Linked DNA regions of Homo sapiens. The protein of the gene in region 1 interacts with the protein of each later gene in a pairwise test. Each region holds a gene or a part of one and is shown on either strand. Other genes may lie near its edges.

What was found.
Region 2: the proteins of NOXA1 (region 1) and MORN3 interact in binary tests that used the Homo sapiens proteins (3 or more experiments, as listed by UniProt).

What each region holds. Positions count from the first base shown.
Region 1 is NC_000009.12:137,429,831-137,433,479, reverse strand, and holds part of NOXA1 (NADPH oxidase activator 1), read right to left. Parts: intron 2,859-3,649; coding exon of another isoform or gene 2,730-2,858; exon of another isoform or gene 2,705-2,729; intron 2,697-2,704; coding exon 2,637-2,696; intron 2,406-2,636; coding exon 2,380-2,405; intron 2,245-2,379; coding exon 2,139-2,244; intron 452-2,138; coding exon 406-451; intron 276-405; coding exon 217-275; intron 28-216; coding exon 1-27.
Region 2 is NC_000012.12:121,663,095-121,666,743, forward strand, and holds part of MORN3 (MORN repeat-containing protein 3), read right to left. Parts: intron 1,228-3,649; exon of another isoform or gene 996-1,227; intron 1-995. UniProt on the Homo sapiens protein: Assembles a suppression complex (suppresome) by tethering SIRT1 and MDM2 to regulate composite modifications of p53/TP53.

The DNA.
Region 1 (3,649 bases):
GGGCTCGGAGCCCCCTGCACCTGCTCCCTGGGTCCAGGCAGGAGGGGGAGGGGTGGTCGCTGAGGCCCAGGGCCTGGTCAGGGCCGTCTTCAGCCCGAGGGGTGTGGACAGAGACTGGGCAGGTGAGGGGGGCTTGCAAGCCTTGATTCTGAGGGATGGGGCTTGGCCTCAGCCTCCCTCAGGTGACTGACAGGTGAAGGGTCTAGAGCCTCTTACCCCAGCACCCGCGGGGTCCTCACAGGGGCCGGGGCCAGGCCCCCCCATTGCCGGCAGCCCTGTAGGACAGAGCAAGACTGACACAGCCACTACCACCAAAGTGGGCCCTGTGGGTGGAGGGCAGCCGGCACCCATGCACCAGCAGCTTCCTCCTTCACCCGGGGACCCCGCCGCTGAGGACGCCCATACCTGGGGAGAGAGGAGCCTGTTTGCCAACTTGCTCCACCTGGGGCCTCTGCAAGAGAAGCACAGGCTGGGTGGGCTGGGGCGGTCAGGTGCTGGAGGCCGGTACTGTCCTCGCAGAGCCCACACCAAGGGTGTGGCCTGTGTGCCCGGCCAGCACCCAGCAGGTGGTCTGTGGGTGTTGAATTCAGGGCACTGGCCACAAGTCGGCTGCCTTAGGATGGGGCTGGGTCCCTGCAGACCTAGAGGCTGCCTGTCACCAGGAGGGAGCGCCCCGTCCCCCAAGGCCCACCGAGGTGGCAGCTCCAGGTGGGTGGGCTCCCCAGTGACCCCAGGAAGCTGAGGACCCAGTCCCTGGGCCCCGGCCTCTGTGTGGGCTCGACATTAACCGTGTGCCCTGAGTTGGGCACTGAGCAGGAGACCAGTTCACCAGCTGCAAGTCACAAAGTCACAGCCCAGCGCTGGCTAGACCCTGAGGGTCAGGCATTGCTGTTGTTTTTTGAGAGGGAGTCTCGCTCTGTCGCCCAGGCTGGAGTGCAGTGGCGCCATCTTGGCTCACTATAAGCTCCGCCTCCTGGGTTCACGCCATTCTCCTGGCTCTGCCTCCTGAGTAGCTGGGACTACAGGTGCCCGCCGCCATGCCCAGCTAATTTTTTGTATTTTTTAGTAGAGACAGGGTTTCACCATGTTAGCCGGGATGGTCTCGATCTCCTGATCTTGTGATCCGCCTGCCTAGGCCTCCCAAAGTGCTGGGATTACAGGCGTGAGCCACTTCGCCTGGCTTTTTTTTTTTTTTTTTTTGAGACAGGGTCTTGCTGTCTTGCCCAGGCCGGAGTGGAGTGGCACTGTCATGGCTCACTGCAGCCTCCACCTCCCAGGCTCAAGCAATCCTTCCACCTCAGCCTCCCACGGTGCTGGGATTACAGACCACTGTGCCCGGCCTCGATTGTAACTTATTATTAGATTTATCAGATGGTTGAAGTTGCCTTAGGTTAGGAAGGACGAGAGCTTAAAGGCCCATCGTGGGAACTGGGCAAATAGTTCCAAACCCTGAGGGAATTAGTGAAGCACAGCTTGGAGGGCGCCCTTGCCCCCGGGATGCCACGGTTAAACTGGAAGTGGGCATCCATAAAGAGAGAGTGCCGGGGCTGCTTCCTGATCGCATCCTCAGATGCGCTCAGCGTGAAATGCAGGTGCCTTCTCTGGGCCTCCCGGATCCTGCAGCAGAGCCTCCGCCCACGGCTGCCACCCTGGGAGCAGCTGGGGTTCCTGCCTTCCTCCGCCTCTCCCCAGGTGCCGGGGTGTCCGGGAGGACTCGGGGGATGGAGTCGCTGCTGGGCCCCCATGGGGGGCGGGAGCCTTGGGGCCCCTCCAGAGCTGTCCTGCCTCCCGCCTGTCCCCAGCTGGGTCACTCCTGGTCACTCGCACCCCAGTGGGAGGGGAGGGGCAATGGCCAAACTGAGGTGGTCCTGGGGGCTGAGGGCCTGCAGGGCTACGTGGATGTCTCCACTGGACACCACCTCTCTCCTGTCCTGATGGCCAATGCCCACTCGCCTCGGGCACAGCCAGGCATCCTCCCATCTGGCTGGGCTGGGCCAGGACCACGGGTGAGCCCGGCCCCGTCTACCCCCCAGCGAGCTGCTCCCTCCACCCTCATGTTGGTCCCATTGTGGTCCCCAGTCTGCGGAGGCAGCAGAAGCACCGACCCCCAGCAGGGGAAGAGGCCCAGGCCCACGCACCTGCTCCTGGTAGGCAGTCGACGTGCAGCGGTCAGCACCGACCTCTGTCTCTGCATCGAGGGGGCCCTGGTGGGTGCCAGCTCTTGGGGAGTCCATGATTAGGGACCTAGGGAGAGGAGGGAGGCTCTCAGGCCCTGCCCATCTGACTGCCCTCCTGTGCCCGGCCCGCGTGGCCCCATGTGGAGGGCCTCTGCCCAGCAGGAAAGGCACGCGCTCGCAGGGCCCAGTCAGCCCCTCCTACCTGGCATCATGGTTCGCTCCTGGTCCCTGTGGACACAAAGCAACAACCTCGCTCTGGTTAAGGGTCGGGGGCCGCCCTCCCTCCTCCTGAACCTTGAAGAGTGGTTTCCCCAGGTCTTACACAGGGATGGGATGGCCACCCCACACCTCCCATCAGAGGAACTTCGCAGCCCCAGGAGGGCTCAGAGCTTGTGCAGCATTTTCTTTCCCAGAAAGCTGGGTGAGGCCAGGCAGGGGTCTGAGGGGCCGCAAACCCACCTGTGGCTGCTGAGGGCGGACGCCCCAGCCCTGGTCGTCGGGGATGGCAGAGGCCACCACCTGGCGGGGACAGTGGGGACGCTGGGTCAGGGATCAGCGGCCCAGCAGGGTCTGCTCCCTGCAGCCCGCCCCACCGTGCCCCGCAGCTCTAAGTCCCCGGGGGCTGGGTGACAGCTGCCCATGCCCGGCCCACGTCTGCCAGACCACCATGGAGGGAAATGTCTGATGGAGAAAAACATCTGCTGCAATGTTAACTTATTTTTAGCACAACTTTAAAAACATTTTGGTTTCTTATAAACAGCACTCTACTGTGATATGCGGACTCTAAGTTAATGCATTAACACAGCTCAGAGCCCGGCTTCGCCCACCCCAGGCCTCCCCTGCTGGGCAGCTGCACTGGGCCCAGGAGTCGGCCGTGGCGCAGCGCAGGTGACCGAGGGGGCGTGGCCAGCCAATGGGGCGTGGCCAGTCCGGGGCGTGGCCAGCCAAGGGTGACCCAGTCTTTGCCCACCAGGAGTTCTTCTTCTCCGCCATGTTTCGCCCGCTGCCTTTGGGGGTGAGCAGCTCCCCATTCCTGTGACTTTAGGGGTGTTGCCTGGCTCTGACCCAAGTGTGGGCGTGACGTGGCCCAGACCGTCGGACTGCAGCCCCTGCCCCCGTGAGACCTTGCTATCTGTGGCAGGGACACAGGGACCCCCCCAGGGACCTCGCTATCTGTGGCAGGGACACAGGGAGACCCCCCGGGACCTCGCTATCTGTGGCAGGGACACAGGCACCCCCGCCCCCCGGGACCTCGCTAGCTGTGGCAGAGACACAGGCACCCCCCCCGGGACCTCGCTACCTGTGGCAGGGACACAGGCACCCCCCTGGGACCTCGCTGTCTGTGGCAGGGACACAGGCACCCCCCCGGGGACCTCGCTATCTGTGGCAGGCACACAGGCATCCCCCCAGGACCTCGCTATCTGTGGCAGGGACGCAGGGACCCCCCCCCCCCGGGACCTCGCTATCTGTGG
Region 2 (3,649 bases), on another chromosome or scaffold:
GAATAGATCTTAATTGTTCTCCCCACACACAAACAAAATGGTAATAATGTGAGGAGATGGATATGCTAATTACTTTGATTGTACTAATAATTTCGAAATGTAGACTTTTTTTTTTTTTTTTGAGACAGAGTTTCATTCTTGTTGCTCAGGCTGGAGTGCAACGGTGCAATCTCGGCTCACTGCAACCTCCGCCTCCTGGGTTCAAGCGATTCTCCTGTCTCAGCCTCCTGAGTAGCTGGGATTACAGGCATGCGCCACCACGTTTGGCTAATTTTGTATTTTTAGTAGAGACGGTGTTTCCCCATGTTGGCCAGGCTGGTCTCCAACTCACGACCTCAGGAGATCCACCCATCTCAGCCTCCCAAAGTGCTGGGATTACAGGCGTAAGCCACTGCGTCCGGCCTTCGAAATGTAGACTTTTAAGAAAATATCTTACTACACATCTTAAGTATATACAATTTTTCTTTGTCAATCATACCGCAATAAAGCCGAGGGAGAAAAGATTCAATTTGTGAGCAATTACGGGACCATTCTAATTTTCTGAAAAGAAAAACAGTATCTCATGGGGTTGTTTCTTATCACTAGATTCCAGGATATGTGTACAGCACTTAGAGCCTACAAGTAGGAAATACGATGTCAATGTTAGCCTTTATTGGTTTTTTTTATTTTTTTATTTTTTTTTTCCTCTCTCAAATCATGGGAGCCTTTGTTATTATTTTTGCCCTTGGGGAGCCCATGGTCTGGTAGGGCCCAACCACATTGTAGGGGCTGTTGGGTTGTTTGCGTTTGTCCTGCCCCTCACTTCCTCCTGGTTTTATTTCCTTTGGGGACACCACTCTCCCACTCTAAACCCCCAAGGTTTGGGTGGCTGACTCCGCCCCCTGGCAGGCCTACCCAATCAGTGTATTCTACCCACCAGGCTGCTGTGATTGGGTCAGTGCAGGCCACCTGACCCAAGTTGGTCCAATGAGACTCCGTGTAAGTCCATTTGGGCCACCACACCCACCCGGGCCTGCAAGGGGAGGAAGCTGACTTAAGAAGGAACTCAACGCAGAGGAAAGCAAAATGGAGACATGGAGGGAGACGCCAAGTTCCAGTGACATTAAGCCCCTGAATCCCACCATGGCTGAACTTGCATTACTGAAGCCCTCCTGAGTTGAATTTCTGCCTCTTGCAAATGAAAGAGGCCTGATGAATACCCACATAGTTCAATTTCAATATACGAAGGTAGGCACTGAGATTTCAATATCAGAAGAAGGGCACTTGGTCAAATCTGGGGACTCAGAGACTTCCTGGAGGGGGTGACGTTGGGGCCAGGAAGGGCAGTCCAGGCACAGGGAACTGCATGAGTAAAGGCAAAGAGGTTTGAAAATGATGGTTGCAGCCGGGCGAGGTGGCTCACGCCTGTAATCGCAGCACTTTGGGAGGCCAAGGCGGGCGGATCACTTGAGGTCGGGAGTTCGAGACCAGCCTGGCCAACATGGCGAAATCTCGTCTCTACTGAAGATACAAAAATTAACCGGGCATGGTAGCAGGTGCCTGTAATCACAGCTACTTGGGAGGCAGGAGAATCGCTTGAACCCAGGAGCAACAGAGTGATTGGCTAGCCAATACATTGATTGGCTAGGCCTGCTAGGGGGGCGGAGTCAGCCCACCCGAACCTTGGGGATTTAGAGTGGGAGAGGGGTGTCCCTAAAGGAAATAAAACCGGGAGGAAGTGAGGGGCAGGACAGGCGAAAACAACCTGTTTTTTTTTTTTTTTTTGTAGCCCCTACCAAAAAAAAAAAAAAAAAGACACTGATGGATGCTCATGACTATGCCTTCCGTGGGTGGCTTCAGTCTCTCCTACCGCAGGCAAATGCAGGAGACACATGGGAATCAATAGGCTGGGAATTAGAGGGGAAAGGTGCTTTTTCTCTGCTAGTCCATTTTGAAAAATCTCATCTCAATTTTTTGATTTGCCCAGTTGGATTACGTGCTCATTTCTGTGACCAAGGTAGCAGGGGCCTGTTATTAGAAGAAGGTGAAGAGTGAGAGCAGGAGGCATCCAACAGTCGAGTTAGGGGTTGATACGCACAGTATATGGCCTGTGCTGGGGAAAGTCCCTAGCCTAACAGTACTGGAGTACCTCGTATAGGAGTCCTGAGACCTGGTTTTAAGATCTCGCGTTTTCTTTTTCTTTCCTTTTTTTTTTTTTTTTTTTTTTTTTTTTTTGAGACGGTGTCTCGCTCTGTCGCCCAGGCTGGAGTGCACTGGCGCGATCTCGGCTCACTGCAAGCTCCGCCTCCCAGGTTCACGCCATTCTCCTGCCTCAGCCTCCTCAGTAGCTGGGACTACAGGCGCCCGCCACCACGCCCGGCTAATTTTTTGGATTAGAAAACGCGAGGTCTTGGCCGGGCGCGGTGGCTCACGCCTGTAATCCCGGCACTTTGGCAGGCTGAGGCGGGCGGATCACGAGGTCAGGAGTTCGAGGCCAGCTAACCAACATGGTGAAACCTCGTCTCTACTGAAAATACAAAAATTAGCTGGGCTTGGTGGCGTGCATCTGTAATCCCAGCTACTCAGGAGGCTGAGGCAGGATAATCGCTTGAACCTGGGAGGCAGAAGTTGCAGTGAGCCGAGATCACACCATTGCACTCCAGCCTGGGCGACAGAATGAGACTCTGTCTCAAAAAAAAAAAAAAAAAAAAAAAGACCTGGCATTTTCTGCTACTGTTTGGGTGACTGAATCAGTTGAGGGTTCGGGGTCCAGACGACCCAACAGAAACCATACTGCACTGTCTTCTGCAGTGCAGTGATGCTGGTTGTCGGAACACTGAAGACCCTAGGACAGTTTGAAATGCTAGTTATTTCAAATAGAGAAAATTTAATACAGGGGATGGAAGAGCTGAGAGTCTGCACAGGACACAGTGAGGCAAACCAAAACTTATCAAGTAGGAAAATAAGGGGAAAAGGCTGGGCATGATGGCTCACACTTGTAATCCCAGAACTTTGGGAGGCCAAGGTGGGCAGATCACTTGAGGTCAGGAATTCGAAACCAGCCTGGCCAACATGGTGAATCCGTGTCTCACTTATTTATTTATTTGTCTTTTTTTTTCTTCCTTTTTGTGGAGAACGGGGTCTCGCTATATTGCCCAAGCAGGCCTTGAACTCCTGGGCTCAAGCTATCTCCCACCTCTGCCTCCCTGAGAGCTGGGATTACAGGCGTGAGCTACCGCACCTGGCAAGTGAATCCCCATCTCTACCAGAAAATACAAAAATTGGCTGGGCGTGGTGGTGTGTGCCTTTAGTCCCAGCTACTTGGGAGGCTGAGGTACAAGAATCACTTGAACCTGGGAAGTGGAGGTTTCAGTGAGCCGAGATCGCAGCACTGCACTCCATCCTGGGCGACAGAGCACAACTCTGTCTCAAACAAGACAAAACTATATCAGGAAGTGAAGAGGATTCCTCCATCCTGTCACTAAGATGCTGGCAGCCATGTGTATCATGCAGAGGTATACTTGCAGGAGGAGAGAAAAAAGGCCAGCCAGGGAGAAGCAGATAGATGGAGAAGTTGTCCTAAGCCTTCCCTGAGGATGGCTCCATTCCTGCCTTTCTAATAATTTGCTTTTATGGGGTGCTTCGTTCTCCTGCTGGATGTCTCTCACCT